Linked DNA regions of Homo sapiens. The protein of the gene in region 1 interacts with the protein of each later gene in a pairwise test. Each region holds a gene or a part of one and is shown in the gene's direction. Other genes may lie near its edges. The genes, in order: TRIB2 and SLAMF7.

The links.
Region 2: the proteins of TRIB2 (region 1) and SLAMF7 interact in a two-hybrid assay, tested with the Homo sapiens proteins (one large-scale study listed by BioGRID and IntAct).

What each region holds. Positions count from the first base shown.
Region 1 is NC_000002.12:12,715,493-12,719,775, forward strand, and holds the start of TRIB2 (tribbles homolog 2), read left to right. Parts: upstream 1-1,443; 5' UTR 1,444-2,815; coding exon 2,816-3,085; intron 3,086-4,283.
Region 2 is NC_000001.11:160,749,124-160,752,472, forward strand, and holds part of SLAMF7 (SLAM family member 7 isoform a precursor), read left to right. Parts: intron 1-697; coding exon 698-970; coding exon of another isoform or gene 971-1,009; intron 1,010-1,180; coding exon 1,181-1,300; intron 1,301-2,221; coding exon 2,222-2,325; intron 2,326-3,062; coding exon 3,063-3,125; intron 3,126-3,349. UniProt on the Homo sapiens protein: Self-ligand receptor of the signaling lymphocytic activation molecule (SLAM) family.

The sequences.
Region 1 (4,283 bases):
TCTGCTGGGATCTGGGACTGAATCCTAGGCAGGTTTGTGGGGAGTAGGATGGTGAGAGGTGCTGGAAGGCACGGGTCCACTTCTTAACCTTCCTTTTAACTCTGTGCTGCTGGGTGGAAGCTTTATAGTCAATGTCCTCTCCATCTCTGGCCACATTCCCAGGACTCCTGATCATTAGAGTGACTGTTGTCCCAAGTGGACATAATTATAAATAGCTCCCTTCTTTTACTGAAAGTGTCCTACAGTGGACAATAATTTAGTCCCCTCCTCCAGTGGAAAATATACTACACGCATGCAAAAGCTCAGAGGGCTCCAGGAGTCGTCCCAACTCCCCTTTCTCAGTTCCTTGGGATTTTTTTTTTTAAGTTTGTCCTCTACTAGATCGCTTCTCATTCACCAGGATATCTTAGATCAAGGCTGGCGTTTGAAGCCTCTGCCTGAGTTCAAGCCCCTTGCTTCCGGTGTTCCTGTCCAAGCCCGCGGACTGGAATCTCCCAAGGAAGTTACGAATAATTCGGGGGGGGTGGCGAAATGGGGGGTGGAGTGGGGCGTGAAACTGCAGCCTTCACCTGGCTAACAGAAGAGGACTCAGGACGCCCAGCACCCTGGATAGGACCCAACAGCGCTCCCTGGAGGTGTGGGTGCAAAGTTTTGTCTAGCTTGGCCTCCAAGGCCCTCCAGGCAATGCACTGGGAAGGGAAGAATTAGTGATTAAATTTGACCTGAATCAAAAGATGCCTTCAGTTCCTCTTCTGCTGAAAACACTAGAAATACAAGCCCAGGATGTGGGGATCGGGGGCAAGCGGTGACACCAACTAAAAGGAAGCAATGGATTTCCTTTTAAATGGAGAGGAGGATGTCGGAGAGATACCATGAAACGAATTCTCGAAACTCCAGGCAGCAATACCGATGAAAGCGCATTCTTCCAAAACAGAGCTCCTCATTCAGGGCCACATCTGAGCCTGGGGGCCCAATGCTCAGAGCGTGCCTGGCTTTCTGGGGAAAAGCGCCAGGAACATGAACGAGCTACGAAGAGCTGGAGCGGGCGCTGCGGGAGCAGCGTGTGGGGAACGGCTCGGGAGTCGCTGCTGGTAACCCCGGCCCAGCCGCCCGCAGCTGGGCTCGCAGCCGGCTCGCAGCCGACACCCAGGGTGCTGCGCCCGGGGCCCCGGGCCGCGGAAGGATATTTCACTTTGTTTACCTCCCCGGCCGGGCGAGGGAGCTGCGAGGCCGGTGCTGGCGCCCCCGGCACGGAGCTGCAATGGCAGCGGCGCGGGGAGCCGCCCGAGGACTGGCAGCGGCGGGGCTGATTGATGGGCGCCCGGCGCAATGAGGGGGGCCCGGGCGGGGGCGGGGCGGGGCCGGCTCTGGGCTGAGCCAGTCGCGGGGGCGGCGGGGGGGGGGCGGAGGCTCCGTGGAAATGTGTCGGTGACATTGAATGGGGAGACCGAGCGCGAGCGAGGCGCGCGCGCGCACACGCGCACTCACGGCCCCGCTCGCTCCGAGATCCCCGGCCACGTAAGTAACTATTAATACCGCCTCGCCGGGGGATGCGGGCGTGCTGAGCGCGGGGATTGGCCTCGGGCACCGTCGGCCGTCCCCTTTAATTTTTAAATACACGGTCCCCTCTTTTCTCTGGGGGGGGCAAGCAAGAAATCAAAGAAGGAGGAGACAAGCCGTCAATTTTCTCCAAAACAAACCCCACCGGGCAATTTGGTCTCGGGGTAGGGGGAGACGGGGTGATTGCAAATTATTCCAGGACGAGATCCAGTTCTCCAGCGGGAAAGGGGCAAAGGAACGCCGCGCGTTGGAAGGGCCAGGGACGCAGCTCCCCTTGCAGCGCCCGCAGGACCCCCGCAAGCTCGTGCCGGCGAAATCGGAGACCGCCGATCTGTCCTCGTTCTCTCCTGCACGTCTGGCTGCATTCGGAGGAAGACCTGGGGCGCGAGCGAGCGGCGACAGCATGAGCCTGTGCTGACCTCCGCGCGGCGGGCCGAGCCCAGGGCTTTGTCGCGGTACCTGCGCCCAGCCCGCGCCGCAACTCTGTGCCCAGCTTTTGCAATCTTTTGTTGGCAGCGCTGACCGCACCAAGTTAAATGCTCCCTTGCAATTTTTCTTTTTTTTGTTTGTTTGTTTAATTTTTGGAGAGCTCGCGATCTTGGAAAAGCCTCAGACGCCATCTACAGTTAAAACGTAGGTAACTGCCCTCTCCCGCACCCCCCCCTTACACGCCCCCCACCCTTTCCACCAAAAAAAGGGGGTGCAGCGCGGATTCTGGCTGCCGTGCGTCGCCAGCCGGTAGACCCGTGCTTGTTTCCTTTCTCTTTTTGTTTGGCTTCTAACGCGTTGGGACTGAGTCGCCGCCGTGAGCTCCCCGAAGACTGCACAAACTACCGCGGGCTCCTCCGCCCCGTCTGCGATTCGGAAGCCGGCCTGGGGGTCGCGTCGGGAGCCCTGGCGCTGCAGCTCCGCACCTTAGCAGCCCGGGTACTCATCCAGATCCACGCCGGGGACACACACACAGAGTAACTAAAAGTGCGGCGATTCTGCACATCGCCGACTGCTTTGGGGTAACAAAAAGACCCGAGTTGCCTGCCGACCGAGGACCCCCGGGAGCCGGGCTCGGAGCAGACGAGGTATCCGGCGGCGCCCATTTGGGGGCTTCTAACTCTTTCTCCACGCAGCCCCTCTTCTGTCCCCTCCCCTCTCGCTCCCTTTTAAAATCAGTGGCACCGAGGCGCCTGCAGCCGCACTCGCCAGCGACTCATCTCTCCAGCGGGTTTTTTTTTGTTTGTCGTGTGCGATCCTCACACTCATGAACATACACAGGTCTACCCCCATCACAATAGCGAGATATGGGAGATCGCGGAACAAAACCCAGGATTTCGAAGAGTTGTCGTCTATAAGGTCCGCGGAGCCCAGCCAGAGTTTCAGCCCGAACCTCGGCTCCCCGAGCCCGCCCGAGACTCCGAACTTGTCGCATTGCGTTTCTTGTATCGGGAAATACTTATTGTTGGAACCTCTGGAGGGAGACCACGTTTTTCGTGCCGTGCATCTGCACAGCGGAGAGGAGCTGGTGTGCAAGGTAAAGGGCCAGTGGGTTGCTTTTTGTCTTTGGAAGGGGCCCGAGGGAGCGGGAGGGCGCCAGGCCCTCGAGTCTGGGAGAGGGAGATTCGCGGGATAATTACCGTGGCCTTATTAAATGGGTTTATTTATTTATTTGCTCAGGTTCGGTAAGTTGCGAAGTTTTTAGACCGTTTCAGACAATGGGGCGGGCGGCAGTGGGGGCGTTTCGGGGAGAGCCCGGGGAGGAGAGGGCGGCGGGACTGCGCGGGGGCCACGGACACGCGTGCACCGAAGGCTCCAGGAGCTCTCTGCGCGAGGCCGGGTCCCGCTGCCCGGGGGGGATTTCTTCCTGTGTCTAGCCCCCTCCCCTTCCAACAAGGATTAGGGAATCCCCCGGTAATTTTAAGACTGATGACTTCGTTCTTTTCGCAGCCATTGTTCTTAGCAGCGGGCAGGTGTTAAACCTTTGTTCCGAAGGTGCCCTTTAAAACAGACACACAAAGGTGCCCCCTTCGGCTGAGCCCAGGGGCCCAGCGCAGGGAAGGAGTTTACAAAGACCTTTCTTCTGCCTGGAGCCTTGAAAGGAGGGTTGGGGTGGAAATCAAAGCCTGAGCACTTTCTGGTGAATAGTGAATGCTTTGGGTCTTTCTCTCTGGTCTTGGTCTCTCTCCCCATCTCTAGACTTCCCTGTCTGCTCATCCCCTCTCTTCCGTGCCCCCCTGAACAACACCTTTGCCTGTAAGGTTAAGAGGCTCCCGTTTGGAGCCCTAGGGATCCGCAGTGGTAATACCACTGCGATGGACACTTCGGTTTCCTTTTTTGTCTTTAACCCTGAACAGTGACTGGTTTATGTATATGTGTGTCTGTGTATCTTTGTGTGCACCCACCGGGCCCCAGACAAGTGGATGAGGGGCGAAATAGTTGCGAAAAAGAAAATAACTATAATAGAGCATACTACTACCCAGAATTGGACCTAGATCAAGGATTCTTTGTCACTTAATTTTAGATTTGCTGACTGTTTTTTTTTTTTTTTGAGGGGGTAAGGGGAGAGTGGGGGACCCATTCTGCCTTTGAAATGGTCACTGGGCACGGTTGTGCTGCAAATAACACATCGCGCTTTTGCCATTCACCACAGACTACTTTGCGGACTTGCCTTATTTCCTAGTGGACTGGAGTATTTCATTGCAAAATTTGGGTTTAGTGGAGATCTCCAGTCA
Region 2 (3,349 bases), on another chromosome or scaffold:
TCCAGACTTGCTTGTAGGAGGTAGGCACTGCACCTGATCCAGGTGTGTCTTCCATATAGACATGGTTGAAGGGAACAGAAGATATGTATTCTGCAGGCTAACTAGTCAGGGGAGGAAGAAAAAGGGCAAAACACATTTTAACTGCAACCTTTAACGTCTCAAACCCATGAGTAGAGAAAGGTAAATGATGAATGTCAGACTCTTACCATCTCACCAATGAACCAACTACTCATTCTCTGAGGCAGGGGAGTGAGCACAGAGTAGAGAAGGGGGCCAGAAGGGCTACTCCAACACAATTTTCTCCTAGAGAGTAAAGTGAACTCTCATAGAGAGTAAAGGGAAGCCTGAGGACAGAGACTAGGGAACCTCTAGAACAGATAATATTAGCGGACATCTAACATGCGTTATCACAGTGCTTGCCATGTGGCTATGCTTAGTAAATGACAGTTATATTCTTATTGCATTATTATTTCTATTATTTCTATTGTTGTTATTGTTATTATTATTATATAGCTATGGTAAAGCAGACCTAGGTAGTTCTCTTTTCCAGATACGAATGAGGATTCTGCTCTGAATTACTGCTTTCTCTCCAGTCTGGAGCTCCCAGGGAGATTCAGGTCCAAGGTATCCAAGGATAATTCAGAGAATGGAGAGCTATAGGCAGAGTTTCCACCTCTGGTTTTCCTTCCTCTCACAGAGCACCTGTCAAAGCCTAAAGTCACCATGGGTCTGCAGAGCAATAAGAATGGCACCTGTGTGACCAATCTGACATGCTGCATGGAACATGGGGAAGAGGATGTGATTTATACCTGGAAGGCCCTGGGGCAAGCAGCCAATGAGTCCCATAATGGGTCCATCCTCCCCATCTCCTGGAGATGGGGAGAAAGTGATATGACCTTCATCTGCGTTGCCAGGAACCCTGTCAGCAGAAACTTCTCAAGCCCCATCCTTGCCAGGAAGCTCTGTGAAGGTGACTGCCTCTCCCCTCTCCACAGGAGACTCTGCCCAGGTCCTACACCTTCTTCAGCTCCTAGCCCCCATGGGAACAGACACTGTATGGAAACTGGAGGCCGCTGGGTGGTCACCAGGCTGGGAGGAAGGTGGCAGGTGCTCCAAGACCTGGGTCGTTTTCCTGAGCTGACTTTTCTCCCTTCCCTGTGCCTCCACCCATTCTCTGAAGGTGCTGCTGATGACCCAGATTCCTCCATGGTCCTCCTGTGTCTCCTGTTGGTGCCCCTCCTGCTCAGTCTCTTTGTACTGGGGCTATTTCTTTGGTTTCTGAAGAGAGAGAGACAAGAAGGTAGAGCGTGTACTATTTTTGTCCTCACCCACATTCATGTTTTTCTCCTTCACTGATTCAACAAGCACATATAGAGCTGTGTGCCAGACTTGGCATGAGGTGTTGAAGATGCAGAGATGAAGAAGCCACAGTCTCTGCCCTCAAGAAGCATACAGTCAGCCTGTGCTCCTTAGTTCTGGAGTAGAGAAAGTGCTGGAGGTCTTTCCCAAGGACACGGTTCTCCCAGTTCCCTTTCCAGGGCTCACTTCTCTCCTTCTCCCAGAGGGACATCCTGATGTGGCTCTTCTGTTGATACAGGCCCCACACTGCTGACTCTGCTCCCCTGACCTGGGAGGTGATGGCCTCCAACTCTGAGGTCCCCACAGACCAGCATCCTCTAGTCAATCCTTCCTATCCCTGTCAGAGCCCACAAACCACCCACACCCTTTCCACAGGATCAACCCAAGACCTCGCTTTACTGCCCACTAGACACATGGCTCCTGGGGAAGCCTTTCCCTGTCTCTCTCCAGTTGCACCCCATCCTGTGTTCCTAAACCCTGCTGATTGGTCTTCTGGGCTCCCACTGTCCATGTGGGTGATGGGGAGGGACCTAACATCAGTTGGGTATGACTTGCAGACTTTGAAATCTCCCTTCCCTCCTGGAAGCCCCTCTGAAAGTGTCTTTGACTTTCTCTACTTCCCACTTTGACCACCTTGATGGAGAGATCAGGAAGTGAAATGTTGGGGGTGGCCAATTCATCCTGATTTGTTTAGATTTTCCCAGTTTTAACACTGAAAGTCCTCTATCCTGAAAACCCTTCCATTACAAGGAAACTCGGCTGGTTGGTCACCCTAAGTGGGTCATCCAGGAGAAATGGTGGGCCAGTGGAAGTGGTGAGTGGTTGGAGAGGTGGCTTTGATTCTCTCCCAACTTGCTTTTAGAGTACATTGAAGAGAAGAAGAGAGTGGACATTTGTCGGGAAACTCCTAACATATGCCCCCATTCTGGAGAGAACACAGAGTACGACACAATCCCTCACACTAATGTGAGTCCCTTCTCATCTTTCCTGAGAACTGATCCTGTCTCTGAGGCTCTCCTTGTGAGGTTTTTCCATGGGTTTGGACAACATGGGAATGAAGAGGGGAGTGAGGATATATAGACTTAAAACTCAATGCACCTGTGCCTCCTCCAAGTCTTCATGGATTCTCTTCTGTGCAGAAGAAGCTGGTGGTCTCTGGAGCACCTGGTTCTGACTCACAATGCTCATGCTGTGGTCTGTGAAATCACCTGCTCCCCTCCACAGTTCATAACGGCCACACAAAAGGCCAGATTCCTTTTGCATAAGGCAGTGGGTAGAAGAGTGTGACTTTGACAGGATGTTTGAATCATGGTATCAGAAGACTTCTCTAGAGATCTCTCTCTCTCTCTCTCTCTCTCTCTCTCTCTCTCTCTCTCTCTCTATATATATATATATATATATATATATATATATATATATACACACACATATATATATAATATTTTTGAAATTCATTTTAACACAGTACAGTTTAAAAATAATGTAATGGCTTCCTGAAAAAAGTTATCAAAATTTATTATAATAGCAGTCACCAACAAGAGAACTTCCTACCTCCCTTCCCTGTTCCAGAACCCTCCTTTTCCTCTCACATCTCCTCCCATCTCTGCTTTCCCCTCTCTGGATTCTGAATGTCTCTCTGGCCTTGTCTATGTGATTCAGGAGGTGGGTGATGATTTCTTTTGTTTGTTGTTTGTTTTTAAAAGAGAACAATCCTAAAGGAAGATCCAGCAAATACGGTTTACTCCACTGTGGAAATACCGAAAAAGGTAAGAAGCTTTAGAGCTTAACTTCATCTTAATGGTTCCATTTCTTTTCCTGCTTCATGTTTAGGTCAAAATTTCTTGGACCCAGGTATCTCATACTCTCTAGAATTAAAAAGTACCCTAGTAGTTCCCCATTCCCTTTGCTTAGGGTTATACAAGAACATGGGGGATGGAAGAGAATTGTGTTTTAGGAATCGAATTGGGTAATCTGGAACAAATAGAGTAGG